Regions from separate parts of the Homo sapiens genome. Here region 1 is linked to region 2. The links come from fine-mapping of genetic effects on gene expression. A gene starts in region 2. The other region holds a variant in brackets. All regions are shown on one strand. Distances are from middle to middle. Region 1 has its middle 46 kb from the start of ITGAV. Region 2 holds the start of ITGAV (integrin subunit alpha V).

Region 1 (8,274 bases), 46 kb after region 2:
ACTTACTAGCTATGTGATATTTAATCTCTCTAAACATTGGCTTGCTCATCTTCAAAATTAGGATAATAAGAATAACTACTACAATGGTTGTTGTAACGCTTTGTGAGAAATCTTTGTATAGAACCTCTTAAAAGGCTAGTACAAGTAACTCCCACATAAAATTGTTGTGAAGATTTAATAAATTCTTAAATATAAAGCATTTAGCCTGATGGCTGGCATATATTCCAAGATTCAATAAATGTTAGCTATCATTGCTATAATTACTACTACTACAATTATATTAGATAGATAATTGACTGTCACTTCTCCATTCACTATGGGTTCTTTAAAGAATCTTGTCAGTACCTATCTCACCTAGAAAACTGGATATTAGATAGCTAGATATAGCTATTTTAAAATATAAACTGAAGATATATAGAGGGTAGTTTTCCATGTGTATCAGGAACTTAGGGGTGTCTGGGTTTTAAGTATATCTATATTTCAAATTTAGTTTAAATGAATTTAATTTATTTCTTGTAGATACAGGGTCTCACTGTGTTGCCCAGGCTGGTCTTAGACTGCTGGGCTTAAGCAAATCACATACCTTGGCCTTCCAAAGTGCTGGGATTACAGACATGAGCCCCTGCACACAACCTTAGGTACATTTAGAATGGTATGCATATAGATACTTAAGAATCTTGAGGGCGTATAGGGGGAAAGGTGCACTGATGAGCCTTACTTGATGTCTGTGCTTTGCAGATGGAAGAAGGAAGAGAAGACAGGAAAGAACACATAAGGAAAGATTAGTGATCCAGAAGTAGATCCGGAATGATACCAGTCACAGTACCAAGGAAGGAAGAAATTAAAAGAAACAGGGGAGTGTTCAACAATGCTGAGTGGTACACAAAGGCCTGAGAAAAACTGTAGGCTTTGCCAATTATGGGGTAATTGGTGACCTTTGAGAGAATAGTTTTAGAAAGAGAACCAAGGGTGGAGTTAAAATTCCAAGGATCTGAGGAATGAGTGGGTGGTAGGAAAAATGGAAGCTATGATGGTAGCCTACTTTTTAAAGATGTTTTCCAAAGAAGAGAAGAAACAACAGAGGGCAGTAACTTGAGAGGGCAGCAAGTCAAAGGAAGGATATTTATAAGGAGAGAGAATATTTTTAGAAACTCAAACAGAGAGCAAATTAAAACACCATCAAGAGAGGCCCTTGGTGGAATAAGATCCTAAAGGAAGTGAAGAAGAATGGGAACAGAGCCCAGGTTGAACCTCGTAAAGGGAGGACTTCCATCATCATTAGAGGCATGAGTAAAGGAAAGGGGCGAACAGACTAAAATTAACAAGATATACTGAGATGGAGAGAATGAAGCTGCACAAAGTCTACATCTGATATCTTGAATCTTACTGGGAAATGAGAAAGTGATTGGTATATTCTGAGAAATTACCAGAAATAGGGTGGGAGCTGAAGGACAGGAGGGCTACATGGAAGGTTGAGAGTTGACTGTACCTGAATATAATAATTTCTGGGCAGTAATGAGAGCTTAGTTAAAATTAGACATATTAATTGCTGTAGACGCAGCATATTCATTTTCCCTAAGAATGTTAAATGTCCAGAAAGTGACAGTAGAGAAAGCATATTTTCTTTATATTGAGCTTAAAAATGCTAAGACAGGAATGAGAGAAAAGAAAAATGGCAAGGGATGCTGTGAGGCGGTGAAGAGTGTATTACTGTCAGGAATTAGCATATTATTTACATTAAAAATAAACTCAGAGAAGGGAGGATAAGCTGAAGAAAAGAGAGAGTTCAAGACACAAACAAACACCATTAGGATTAAAAACAAGTTCAGTGATGATGAAGAAATGGAGGATTTGAAGTTGAAGTCAGCCTGTGGATTTCCAGAGATCAAAATCTTGGAAGTGAAACCACATCAAGTGAGTCTGGGTAGGTCTTGCCTACAGGTGTAAGTCTGCTTCAGGAAGTCCAGAAAGCAGTGAGGAAAGACTGTTAGGAATACGACCCAGTGCTTACAGACATCAGCTTTGCAGTCAGAATCCCAGCTCTACCACTTTCTAGTTGGGTGACTCTGTGCAAGTTCCGAAACTTTTCCATGTCTGATCCTCATCCATACAATGAAGGTCACATTATTTCCTGGCTTTTAGAACTGATGTGAGGATTAAATGGGATAATGTATGTAAAGCGTCTCACATTTGACACCTAATAAGGGCTCAAAATATAGTTTTTATTATCTAGTGTTACTTTCAGTATCTTCATGATTCATATGTCAGTGTTTATCCAAGGGAGAGTGACATGGATTAAGGTGCAGAGGAAGACTGTGAATGGGGCATAAAAGTCTATGAAGAAGGTATCAGGTTTAGAGGTTAGTGGATGACTGGGCAAAGAAGGCTAGAAACCTAATAAAAATGCCTGCAACAGACATTGATGACCTTAAAAAAGGAAATCCTTTTTAGGTAGAACAGAGTAGAACGGCTCCCAAGTTTAGTGCCATTGGATTAATGATATCCTGAAAGACTCAGATTCTTTCTCTGCTTGTTTGCTGGTCCTCTTAAGGCTATGTTCCGTCACGCTCTCCATATTATGCCTGCAGTTTTAGATATCCTTAGGGAACAAGTTTTGGGGATCATTAGTGGATTCCTCTAGAATGTGAGGGTGCTAGCACCTATTTATTTATTTCAGTTTGGAGAATAAAGCAGCAGAGAAGTATTATTCCATATTTTGTTATACAAATGATGCTGCAGTTAGCAGCCTTATAAATACTTCATTATGCATATGTGAAGTATTTTCTAGGATGAATAGGAAGACATAGAATTGCTTCCAAAGAGCACACATTTTAAACATTGTAGATACTTACAAATGGCATTATCACTTTACACTCTCACTAGCAGTATATTAAAAAAACTAAGGATTACCCACTTCCTACTCATATTTTGATAATATCAAACTTTTAAATATTTGCTAATCTGGTACACAAAAAACCATGTCTCATTGTTTTTTCAATGCGCATTTTTCTGGTTACAAATGGGGCTGAGTATCTTTTCAAATGTTTGTGGATCATTTGCATTTAATTTTTAATGAATTTCCTCTTCATCACTTTTGCTTGTTTTTCTATTGGATTGCTTACGTTTTCTTAATTTGTAGAAATTCTTCATATAGTCTGAATACTAATCCTTTGATTGCTATTTTCGTCTATCCTTTGCTTTAGCTTTGTTGAAGATGTCTCCAAGAAGGGAAACAACTTTTAATTTACAAGTAGGAAACAACTTTTAATTTGCACAAAACTTTTTGTCCTCTTGGATTCTTAGGCTGTTTAACTGGCAGTAACTGGTTGTTTGATTTCCAGAGTCTACTTTGCTCAAAGTCAATTACAGGAAGCTCTTTATACAGTGTCATTTAAAGGATAAGGAGAGAAAGCCTGAACTGCTAAAATATACTTCAACCCAGGAGTCTGATGCCATGACTGGAATTCCCCAGATTAGTCATTCCTGAGGGACTTTCTGGAATGTGAGATTTTAACTGGGTGAAGGGTATTATTATCTTGTTGAAACAGGATGTTAGCCTATCAACACATTAACAATGATTATGTTCTTCAATGAAATGTTTTTCCTTTTTTTTTTAACTGAGTAGAGAAAGAACAGAGCAGGAATGAGATGTACAGATAAAGTAAGCAAAGTTTGAAACACAGCACAGGGCCCTGTTATTTGAAGAACTATTACGGAAGGCTCTGGGCAATGAGGAGGCAGTTTCAGGGCAAAATTTCTCTGTTTTAGGAAGAAAGAAGGGAGACTAAAAAGAAAGATGACCAAAATAAACTTTGAGTTTTCTCCCCTCAGCCTGGAATTCTTTTAATCCTCTAATACTCAGGTTACAATATCAAAATATAGTGGTTTTCCACTTAAATTAGATGTGCGTTTGATTATTCCCTTATTAAAGCAAACTTAAGCAGTTCTGCAGCTATGAGTCAACAGATCCTTTCAAACATTCCTCACAAAAGTCCTGTGATAGAGGAAAGTCATTTAAGATTTAAAATGAGAGAATTACAAAGAAAGTGGCATAAAAGACTTGTCCTTTGCCATGTGTTAAGTTGCAAGTATTATTCTAACTTTGTAAGTGGTTTTAGTCTCTGAGAGAAAAATATTTAATGAAAGCAGATGTTGATGAGTCACATTTAAGCTCTTATAGTTTAAAACACATTTTTTTTTTTTGTATATGGAGTTGTTGCTTGGAAGGTGGCTGGATAAAGTCCTCAACCCACACACTAAATGATGAATTTTCTTGTGTTGTCAGTACCAAAGAAGTTGGACTAGAGAGTCTGTAGGAACACTTCCAAATCTTGTATCCTACACTTTGTCAAAGGAGATTTATGGCTGGGCGCGGTAACTCATGCCTGTAATCCCAGCACTGTGGGAGGCCAAGGCAGATGGATTACCTGAAGTCAGGAGTTCAAGACTAGCCCGTCCAACGTAGTGAAATCCTGTCTCTACTAAAATTACAAAATTAGCCAAGGGTGGTGGTGCATGCCTATAATCCCAGCTACTTGGGAGGCTGAGGCAGGAGAATCGCTTGAACCCGAGAGGCGGAGGTTGCAGTGACCCGAGATTGCGCCACTGAACTCCAGCCTGGGCAACAAGAGCAAAACTCTGTCTCAAATTAAAAGAAAAAAAAAAAAAAGAGCCGGATACGGTGGCTTATGCCTGTAATCCCAGAACTTTGGGAGGCCAAGGCGGGCAGATCACAAGGTCAGAAGATCGAGACCATCCTGGCTAACACGGTGAAACCCCGTCTCTACTAAAAATACAAAAAATTAGCCGGGTGTGGTGGCGGGCACCTGTAGTCCCAGCTGCTTGGGAGGAGGCAGGAGAATGGAATGAATCCAGAAGGCGGATGTTGCAGTGAGCCGAGATCG[C/T]GCCACTGCACTCCAGCCTGGGTGGCAGAGCGACACTCCGTCTCAAAAAAGAAAAAAAAAAAAGATTTATGCCTTTTTTCCTTTTGCCCTAGTTATGTAGCCATGAAATGATGTAACCATGAGATGATGTAGCCACATGATGAAATAGCCCCCAACTCTTTTCTCCTGCGGCTACTTCTTTAAGTCACTGTTCAGACATTCACAGTGAAGAAGTTAGGGAGAAGAAGAAAATTTTCAAATTGTGAGTGTGAGAGAAATATTGATTTATTATTTAATAAATATTTACAGATTGGTTAGCATGTCTGAGACTAACCACAGGTGGACAGACTAACCAAATAATCATAAACACAATCTCAGACAAAGTTAAGTACTATGAAGTGTCCTTATAACAAAGGACTTAGGAGTCAAAGAAAACCTTCTCTCAGGAAGGACCAACATCTGTGCTAAGATCTGAAGGAGGAGCAGGGGTTAAAAAATGAAAGAGTAGGCCAGGCGCCGTGGCTTACACCTGTAATCCCAGCACTTTGGGAGGCCAAGGCGGGTGGATCACTTGAGGTTAGGAGTTCAAGACTAGCCTGCCCAACATGGTGAAACCCCGTCTCTACTAAAAATACAAAAATTAGATGGGTGTGGTGGTGCATGCCTGTAATCCCAGCTACTTGGGAGGTTGAGGTAGGAGAATTGCTTGAGCCCGGGAGGCAGAGGTTGCAGTGAGTCGAGATCTCGCCACTTAACTCCAGCCTGGGTGAGAGCAAAACTCTGTCTCAAAAAAAAGAAAAAAAAAAGGGTGAAAGAGTGGGTGAGTTGGCAATGGCAAGAGCATTCCAGGCAGAACAACAAGCATTCATAGGGCTCCTGATACAGGAGACAGCATAGTGTGTTCAGGTAACTTGGAGAAAGGGTGATGCAACCCCAAGGTAGTTAGGAGGATTTGGTAATGACTCGGATAACTGGAGATAGTTCCCTCTCAGATTCTTTGCTACTTTCTTCCTGTCTCTCCCTCTCTCCTAACGGAAAACAAACACTTCAGCCAGGCATTGTTTTAAGCACTTTATACATATTAACTCAACCCTAACTCAACACAAACCAACCAGTATATGTCAGAGAATATGAACTCAAGATCTTACCTGAGGCATCTCTGCTTTGTCTTTTTCACCCCTCAAACACTGAGCTATCCTTAAGATAACAAGAGAGTTTCTATAGGGACAAACCCAAGGCATTTAGTTTTTGTAGGGACAAGCCCAGGATTATTTGCGAGAAGGCCAAAAAAAACCCACACAAGAAAAAAAAGAAAAAAAAAGGTAAAAAAGGATGTAGGTATGCAAATGTGTTTTAGTCATGCTGAATCCCAAGGCAAGCTACACTTAGGAAGAAAACTACAAAAATACTATAATCCATTCATGTGTTATTTATTTAATTGTGATGTATAATATTTGAGTGTATATTCTGTCAAGTATGGTCCTAAAAATCTTATAATGTGTATGTTTGGTTAATCCTGACACCCAAACCTATTATGCCAATTTTACAAAGGAGAAACCAAGAGAAAATTCCAAGGATGCACAGCTAGTGGTAGTGAAGAAAGGTGGGAGCTGATTCTGAATAGTCTGGCTGCAGAACCATGCTTTTAAGCACTAGACTTCGTTTGCTCATTTGTATGACCAAAAAATGCCTTGTTACCTCATAAAAAGATTATCTTCTCTCTTCTCTAAAAGAGGGCCTTATGATATTTTAGGAAATGAAGATCTTCTTGACAAATATGAGAGTCACTGAATTAACAAGAAAATAGAGAAACTCTGATGGAACTCTGTAAAAGCAGCACACACTGAAACTGCACTTTCTTTGACAAAAGATTGCAAATAAGAATATGGAAGTAATTTTGTGGCCAGTGAACACGGAACACTTAAGTTATGCAGCAAGCCGCCATGTAACTCTAGACTTCTGAAACTGGTAGTACGAAAACAGCTCTAAGGCTGATTTTGAGCAGGGATTATAGTCAATCCTGCAACACTAAACCAATTACAGCAGAAAAAACCGAGACTATTTTCAACAAAGTTGCAGAATTTTCTGATTTGCATTAAGTGTTTGTCATTTTCTTGGCATGTTTCTCCTTTCATCATTGAAGTATGAGAGATTATGTGTTTAAAGTCTGCCTCTTTCTCATTTGGGTTTGAATAAAATTCCACAGTGTTCTTTTGGATGAAGGGGGTTCCCTAAAGTTAAAAGGAGTTTCCTCCACTTTTATTGAGATCTAAAGAAGCAGACTTGCAGTTCATCATTCACCAAAGAAGCAAAAACCAAAAAACTATAACTAGACATATCATATTCAAACTGCAGAAAATCAAAAGTTTAAAAAGAAGTCTTGAAATAAGCCAGAGGAAAAAATTACCTTACTTATAGAGGAGCAAAGATAAGAGCTACATCTGACTGCTCAAAAACCATGCAAGCAGAGTGGAGTAAATATTTAAAGTGTTGAGAGAAAAAAAACCTCACTGACCTAGAACTGAATACTCTGCAAAATTATTCTCCAAAAGTGAAGGAGAAATACTGTCTCAGACAAACAGAGTTGAGGGAATTTGTTGCTAGAAGCTCTGCCATGCAAGAAATGTTAAAAGAAGTTATTTAGAAAAGAAGGAAAATGATATGTCAGAAGCTGAGATATAAATAAAGAAAAGAACATCAAGAAAGCCGGGTGCAGTGACTCATGCCTGTAATTCCAGCACTTTGGGAGGTCAAGGCAGGCGGATCACCTGAGGTCAGGAGTTCAAGACCAGCCTGGCCAATATGGAGAAACCCCGTCTCTACAAAAATACAAAATTTAGCTGGGCATGATGGCGGATGCCTGTAATCCCAGCTACTTGGGAGGCTGAGGTGGGAAAATCGCTTGAACCCGGGAAGCAGAGGTTGCAGTGAGCTGAGTTCACATCATTGCACTCTAGCCTGGGTGACAGTGAGACTCCATCTCAAAAAAAAAAAAAAAAAGAAAAAGAAAAAGAAAAAAACATCAAGAAGGAATAAATATAGTTAAAACTTTCATTTTCCTTATTCTTAATTGAGCTAACAAATATGGTTTGTTCAAAATAACAATAGTAATAATGTATTCAATTATGTAGCAAATCAAATCCAACAATGTATTAAAGGAAATTATAGACCATAACCAAAGAGAATTTATCCTAGAAATACAAGGCTGGTTCAACATTTGGAAATCAATTAATATAATCCATTACATCAACATACTAAGGAAGAAAAGTCACGTGATTATATCAGTAGATGCTGAAAAAGCATTTGACAAAATTCAACACTCACTCATAATAAAAACTTTTAAGGCTGGGCGTGGTGGCTCACGCCTGTAATCCCAGCACTTTGGGAGGCC
Region 2 (8,338 bases):
GTGGTGAAGTAGGAGAAACACAGAAAAATAGAACATGAGAGGGAGGAATATGAAAGTATTTCCAAGGTGACAGAGAAAATGATGCCAGCATTAATAGAAACAGAGGTGCAACTAACATCTCTTGGTGAAGACTTTTTAGTCAAATTGAGTTAAGACAGGCTAGTCAACGAGAAATGATTCACAGGCCAGGCCACTGGAATATCAAGTCAGAGATCTACTTTTAGATTTAAGATACAGCCAGGGCAAGAGTTTTATTTAAAAGGCTTTCCAGATATTGCAAACATGAAGTTAGGACTGAGAACCATTGAAGGACCTTCTGCTTCTAAGGCATACACATCTACACATTGCCAACTGTAAGATAAGGCTCCATTAGCGTTTAATGGGGGGAAAGGCAAGAATCCAGTGTCATTCATTATAGCATTATTTTAAAATAAAGAAATACATAAAATGAGAACTGTATAACATATATTTGAAGAATGAATTTTAAAATTGTTCAGTTATTTTCTTTAAAAATTCAATATTTGAATTAATAAAAGTGGGATTTGAATTTTACACCCTGTCTTCGGATCCTTCCCTTCCTTACCCTCTACTCACACCAACCTACTCAAATAACTAGACTGCAAACGGTTCTGCCTCCATTTCCTCCTCATCTGTAAGAATGAGTATATCTGCTTCCCCTTACTTCCCCCCGGTGGTGTGGGCTATAGAATGAAATGAGATATAAGTGCTTAGCAAATTATAAAATATGTTTACCAAAATAAGATGTCATCATTATAATTAAACCTAGGATGTAATTTTTAATTTTTCCAATTAGTCTCCACAAGAAAAGTATGACTCTAATTATTAGCCTGCATACAATCTTTAAATTTTATGTAAGTTTTACAACATAGCATAAATAAATGCTTATAGAAAAAAAAACAGAATGCGAATGTTTTTTCATAATTTTGAAAATCACTATATTTGTGAATTTTTACTTCGAACCTGACTCATTTCTGGAGTGATTTTTTGAGGGGCCGCCTTAACATTTTGCTTAGTACTTTGTCCTTCCCTTTAATAAATATTGATTCATTAATTTTCACAACAAAACTATGAACTATGCAGATAATTCAATAATAATTTTCTATAAAGAGAAAAATTAGGCATAAAATAATTCTACAGCTTCCCCAAGGTATGTGGACACCAAAACTGGAAAAAGCAACAGGAGTGGACGTCACAACCACTGCTCCTCACAAATCCTTCTCCCCTCAGAAGAAAGGCGCTCTTGAATTGACAAATACTTTTTCATTATGTGGCTTTTTTTCTTTTAAAAGTTTATGGTAATACCAAATAACAATAAATCCAACTGGTAATATTGGAAATGGCATCCCAAGTACCTTGGATTCCAATGCTTGTTAAATTTAAAGTGCCCTTCTAGAAAATTCAGCAAAATTTTACATAAATTTTTGTTAAATCTGAAAAGCTCAGTAAGTAAAAACCTGTGTTTATATACGTTTTGTTTAAAAAGAAAAAAGAAAAAAATTCAAGGTTGGTTTCCATTTTTTAAGTTACCTATACCTAGAGCTCTGTAGTCTATCGGTAACAAAGTTGCTGATGAATATTTCAAAATATTATATGCAACCAAACCCAAGTTCAATTTTACTTTATCATTAAAGGTCTATGAGTGAAGTCATGTAAACCTGTGAGGTCATAACACATTCATTGATTATAATGACTGGCCAAAGATTAGTCACCCTGGTTTGTAATCAGCAGTAGCAAATATCATGAAGAGTTCAACATCACTGCATTTTTCATGGAAAAAAAAAAAACACTTAAAGTTTATCAGCCTCTCATTTATCTTACACTAAACTCAGAGCACTGCTGAAGAATTAACAGTAACATTGTAAAACACTGCCATCAACTTTATTTTGTTGTTGTTATTGTTTGTTGTTTTTGATTTTGTTTTTGTTTCTGAGACAGTCTCTCTCTATCGCCCAGGCCACAGTGTGGTGGCACAATCTCCATTCACTGCAACCTCAACTTTCCAAGCAATCCTCTCATCTCAGCCTCCCGCAGAGCGAGGATTACAGGTGTGCACCACCATGCCCGGTTAATTTTTGTATTTTTTTGTAGTGACAGGGTTTCACCATGTTGCCCAGGTTGGTCTCAAATTCCTGAGCTCAGACAATCTGCCCATCTTGGCCTCCCAAGGTGCTGGGATTACAGGTGTGAGCCACTGTGCCTGGCCTGAAGTATTTAAATGCTAATTTTTGACTGAAGACATATATTTTCAAAATCATTAGAATTTCTCTACAAATTATATCTCACATTGAACCCTTGGGAGCAACTAAAATGTTCTGTCTCATGAAGGTATACACTTGAAAGTATCTGGAAACAAAAATGTTTAAAGATAACGTTTGGTATTCACCCCTGTGGTTAAAAACAATAAATAAAAAGATAATGCTGACTAAAATGACTAAATGGAATGTGAAATTGGTAAATGTTGCCTAAATAATGATTATTTTTATCATGTTGGAAAATCTGTGCTCCAGGTCTCACAGAAAGCACTGTAACTGCTAACAACAAATAAAACTAAGCTTGCTACATAAAATAATGTCTCCACTAACAAAGTTTCCATTAACTGCATCTAATCTATGTATTGCTGCAAAGGTTGTTACCAAAATGAATGATACTCAGTAACATTCAGAAAAACACTAAGACTAAATTCTGCTGAGTGTCCTAACAGTCATAGAAAACCATTGAGACCACCCTCAAATTAGGCATGTGTGTAGTAGAAGATGGTCCTATCCACGTACTAACCGTCAAAATTTTCCTCCACTTCACCCCGAAGGGATATCTTATACAGAAAATATGGAAACAAAAATATGTTGTTACAAGGTCTAAGCGTTTAGAAGGCACCCTAAGAACAGTTTCTCTCTTGAAAACAAGATTTAAACATCATTAAAAAAACAGTCAACATTCATTAAAACAGTACTCCTAACGCTAACATGGGGGTGGGGTGGTGAGAATGATGTCAGCATTCAGTAAAGTCGGAGACAATTTCTAACACAATAATGGCAATAACTGTTATAAATCCTGACGGCCCTTGCAACGCGGAACGTTGGCAACTTGAAAACATAACTGAATTATTAAATACTGCAGTATTCAAATGACCTGCAGCGAGTGAAAACTCAGCAAACACCCTTGTTCCTTCTGAACAATGACCTAAATAGTGAATCACTATAAAAAGAACAGATGACACATTCAATTCATCTGTTCAACCTCAAATGTGCAAATGTCTGACAGTCCCAGAGATAAGACACAATGAATTCAATAGGACAGTATGGTCATTTTAAGTCATCAGAATGTCTGCAAAAGGAGTAAGGAGAAACAGAATCAGACAGAGGCGGAAAGAGTGGGGGAGGGCTTGTTTAGGGAGACTGAAAAGGACGGGCGTTAAGCCTGTAAAGCAGAAAAAGGCTACCAAGAAGCCTAACTGGTAGAGGAGAAAAAGAAGTTCGGGGATGATATTGACCAAATCCTCGACACTGGCACAGGAGGCGGGGAGTCCGGCAAGACCAGCCTTTGTTGATTTCCCACTTTCCCCGATTTTTAAGCACAGGTCTGCTTCAAAGCTCTCCCGCTGCCCCTAACCAATTTTAAGAGGTGAGAAGCGGGGTGTAACTGGGTGATGGGTACCAAAGGGAGTTCATTTCCCCAAATATTTCCTCCACCCAGGATATAAACCACTCTGAGAGGTAGGATGGGTGAGACAGACAGACGCCGGGATCTCTCGGAAATCAATCCCAATGGAGAAACGCTGGGTGGGTGCGCGCGGTGGGGGAGGGGGCCGGCTCCAGTTCCAAGTGCGGCCACTTACGAAGACGCGCTGGGCACGAAGAAATCCACGGCGAAGCCGAAGTAACTTCCCTCGGGGCCAGAGTACTCGGCAGGACTGTCCACGTCTAGGTTGAAGGCGCGGCACAGAGGTAGCAGGAGTCCCGAGAGAAGAAGCGGGAGGCCGCGGGGACCGAGGCGCAGCCGTCGCCGCGGCGGAAAAGCCATCGCCGAAGTGCGCGCGGGACGCCAAGCCGGGAGCGGTAGCCACCTCCCCCCGCCCCAGCGAGGCGCCCAGTGCCCGCGGCCCGCCGCCTGCGCGCGCCCAAACTTGCCGGCCGCTCTCTTCTCGGCTAGCCCGGGACAGCTCCGGGGCAGGCAAGAGGGCTGAGCTTCGGAGCGACCGCCAGGGACGAGGGGCGCAGAGCGCGCGGGGCGGGGACAGCAGCGCAGACGGTCCTTTGCTTCCCTCCGGCTCCGCCGCTCCACGCAGCGTCTGAGGCTGGGGACTGCCGGGGTGAGCGCCGCACCTCAGGCCTGAGAGCCGCGGCGGCACTGGGAGGAGACCTGGAAGGAGGAGGAGCCGGCCCGGGAGGCTGCTGTGGAGCTGGAGGAGGAAGTGGGGGAGGAGAGGCGCCCTTCTACAGGGGAGAGCTCAGCGTACTTCCGTGAGTGCAGTCGCCGCCTGTCCCGAGACCTGGGCGTCTGTGCAGGGGCCCCCAGCTCCTGAGCCTGGGTCAGCGGCAGCGCTCCTGGACGAAGGCCTCAGGCTGAGCACCTGAGGAGGCGTGGGGGCGGGGGCGGGGAGATACGGTCCAGCGTCCCAATCTACCCGCGTCCACGGGAGTAGCAAGGGCACCCACGTTCCCTTGTCCCGCCGGGAACTTCCGTGCGACTGTTGTTTAAAAATGAGGAAAGCTTTTTATCAGTTTCTCGTGTTTCTGCTGCTTAGCCTGGCAGGCTCTCACGAACGAAACCCTGTTAATTAATGGTCGTTAATTACACTCCATTCCACAAACACTGAACTTAATTACGGATTTCCAGAAAGCCAGCATAGCCTCTTGCAAGTGAGGTATGTAAAGCTTAACTTAGTAGTCAAAGAAAGGATTCGCAGGGCAAAGAATTGGCAGTGATCGTTTTAAATCAAGTCAGAATAATCGAAGCCTTATTCCCAGTTTGTTAGCTGCGGTTGTATGATTTAGAAACACTGATTTGTTGATTTAGGATGTTTGGATAGACATAATTTCAGAGCTGGAAGAAGGACCGCACACCGGTGAAATAAGGCCCCGCGTGCTTGTTTGCCACTGGTGTGTTTCATCAAGCCTTGACAACACTGGACTGAGAGAGAGGGCCTTGAGGACAGGAACCTTGACCTTTTTCTTAGTGTTCTTATTTCTAGCACCTTGCCAAGCAGATAGTAGTCGATCAATAAAATGTCCAATCAGTGAATGAATAGCAGACGAAATGAGCAAAGTGCCCAGAGAAGTGACTCTTCCATATTTCAAGTGTTTCATGTGCTACAGAATCTGTTGAACAAGGTGAAGTTTAAGTGCATTGTGTGGACTTACAACTTACAAGTAAGTACTGGAACAGTAATTTCTGTTTTCCCAAAGTAACTATTAAAACTCAATCATAATATACATTAATAACTATCAAATAATCCTGTGAAAGGATATGTATATAAATGAAAGTGAAATGCCTAATTCGAATTTGTAATATTTATTGGACCAGGTCCAGGTGCTCATGCTGGCAATCTCAGCACTTTGGGAGACTGAGGCAGGAGGATTGCTTGAGACCGGGAGTTCCAGGGGAACATAGGGAGACCTCATCTCTACAAAAATTTAAAAATTAGCTGGGAGTGTGGTGCATGCCTGTAGTCCCAGCTATGCCGGAGGCTAAGGCAGGTAGATAGATCGCTTAGGCTCAGGAGTTCCAGGTTATGATAAGTCATGAGCCTGCCACTGCACTCCAGCCTGAGTGACAGAACAAGACCCTGTGTTTAAAAAAAAAAAAGGCCGGGCGAGGTGGCTCATGCCTGTAGTCCTAGCACTTTGGGAGGCTGAGGCCGGCAAATTGCCTGAGCTCGGGAGTTCGAGACCAGCCTGGGCAACACAGTGAAATCCCGTCTCTACTAAAATACAAAAAATTAGCCGGGCGTGGCGGCATGCGCCTGCAGTCCCAGCTACTCAGGAGGCTGAGGCAGGAGAATTGCTTGAACCCGGAAGGCGGAGGCTGCAGTAAGCTGAGATGGTGCCACTGCACTCCAGCCTGGGCCACAGAGTGAGACTCCATCTCAAAAAAAAAATGCATTAAATATTTCCATTTTTAAATTTGACTAAAAGATATGCAGCAAAACCTTTGGCATGTTTTACAAGGCATGGTCTAGCATCTGCCTGAAAGAAATTACTGATTGAGAGAAGAAATCCTACACAAATCCTTACACATAAATGCAAATACAGCTTATTTCTCACCTTCTTTCCTAATACACCAAAGAGGCTATTGATATGTATGCATAAACCCAAAGGGTCTTTTATATCTTAAAAACATGACAACCAGTCTACCTGGAAATCCATCCAGGTAAGGAAGACAGAAGAGTTTAAACTCTGGCTAGATCCAGTAAGTCTCCCACTCCTCAACTTCTGATCGCAGGACAGGGGTCCGACAGACCAAGGTGGAGTGAAGAAATGTGAGAGGACCAGGGAAAAGAAGAAGCCCACGAAATGACAACACATGTACACCCACCAAAACTTGGGTGAACAACACACCCCCAAATAGGGCTACAACTTACTGAAAGCACTTACTGTTGAGCCATTCTTTATGAGTTTATTTTGAATGAGCAGTCTTGAAAATCAAGGAATTTGTTTTTTTTAAAAAAGCAAATAGTCCAGGCACTGTGGCTCATGCCTGTAATCCCAGCATTTTGGGAGGCCGAGGTGGGTGGATCACCTGAGGTCAGGAGTTCAAGACCAGCCTGGCCAACACAGTGAAACCCCGTCTCTACTAAAAATACAAAAATTGGCCGGGCGCAGTGGCTCACTCACACCTGTAATCCCAGCACTTTGGGAGTCCAAAGTGGGTGGATCACGATGTCAGGAGTTCAAGACCAGCCTGGCCAAGATGGTGAAAGCCTATCTCTACTAAAAATACAAAAATTAGCTGGGTGCAGTGGCAGGCACCTGTAATCCCAGCTACTTGGGAGGCTGAGGCAGGAGAATCACTTGAACCTGGGAAGCAGAGGTTTCAGTGAGCCAAGATCGTGCCACTGCACTTCAGCCTGGATGACAGAATGAGACTCCATCTCAAAAAAGAAAAAACAGTAGCCAGGCATGGTGGTGTGTGCCTGTAATCTCAGCTACTCAGGAGACTGAGGCAGGAGAATTGCTTGAACCCGGAAGGCAGAGGCTACAGTGAGCCGAGATATTGTGGTATTGTGGGCCACTGTGCTCCAGCCTGGGTGACAGAGCGAGACTGTCTAACAACAAAAAAAAGCAAACATACATTTCAATTAGGAAACTATGAAGCAGACTAACCCAGTGGCTTTAGAAACTTGGGGTTATAAATGCAGGCATCTCTTTGTGTGACCATGCTCGAGCAGCCACTCACACAGTGCCTTGCAAATTGTATTGTAGAACATGTCAATTCAGCTAGTGCTGATTCAAAATCCACATTGCACCTGGTACTATGTGCATGGGACAGAGAAAAGAATGTTTTAGTCTACGAAAGAATGGTGGTGCCCCTCCCCTACCCCCATGACACTACTCTTTGAACTACATTATAACAGTTTTCCAACTTAAAAGGAGAACTTCTGTGTATACATTAAGTATTCATTGAATATAATCCTTTTCTTAGAAAATAAAATATTAGATAGTAAAAAGAATTTGTACTTTGAATTTTATCCTCTACTACCCTATACTTTAGTAAAAATCTTGATTCCAGTGGTTTCTGTAAAATAAAGCACCTGGGTTCCATTCCTGGCTTTGCCAACTACTAGTTGTATGACCCTGGGGAAATCAATCCAACCAATCTGTGCCTCAGTTTTCTTATCTATGAAAGGGAAAGGGGAGTAATACTATGTCTATCTCTTAGAATTGAACAGTTCTTGTTGCCATTAATACTTTTAAGACTAATAGTTTAGCATGGTAGCAATAATAAATTTTTTTTTTTGAAACAAAGTGTCACTCTGTCACCAGGCTGGAGTGCAGTGGCGCCATGTCAGCTCACTGCAACCTCCGCGTCCTGGGTTCAAGCAATTCTCCTGCCGTAAATTTTTATGACTATTATTTCACTCTCTTAGTTCCCCTAGTGTCTGTCCAACAGGTCCTTCAATAACCATAATCAAACCAGGGCTTCACGCAGCTCTGTCTCTGCAAACAAAGGAACTTAGTCCATAATTTAAGAGGAATTTCAAATTTTATCTCTCTCAAAGAACCTCAAAGGAGATTCAGTTAATAACCCATGGGAACTTCAGAAATCTGCTTCTTCTACTCTCAATTTCTCTGGAGACTTTAACCCACTAAACCCTGCC

What was found. PIP is the estimated chance that this variant, and not a neighbour inherited with it, causes the effect.
Region 1: its variant is fine-mapped to the expression of ITGAV in subcutaneous fat (TwinsUK, PIP 0.95).

What each region holds. Positions count from the first base shown.
Region 1 is chr2:186,539,741-186,548,014 of GRCh38, reverse strand. No RefSeq gene overlaps it. Among named protein-coding and RNA genes, the nearest start is that of ITGAV, 46 kb to the left of the region's middle. RefSeq lists enhancers at 5,000-5,507, 5,508-6,017. The variant C/T (reference allele first, on the strand shown) is at 4,905.
Region 2 is chr2:186,586,042-186,594,379 of GRCh38, reverse strand. ITGAV (integrin subunit alpha V) reads right to left here and starts at 4,324. Exons shown (of 30, transcript NM_002210.5): 1 at 3,857-4,324. The coding sequence starts at 4,041. It overlaps LOC124906105 (a long non-coding RNA gene), which reads left to right and starts at 4,484. Exons shown (of 2, transcript XR_007087465.1): 1 at 4,484-5,390. RefSeq lists an enhancer at 3,842-3,901 and a silencer at 4,032-4,261.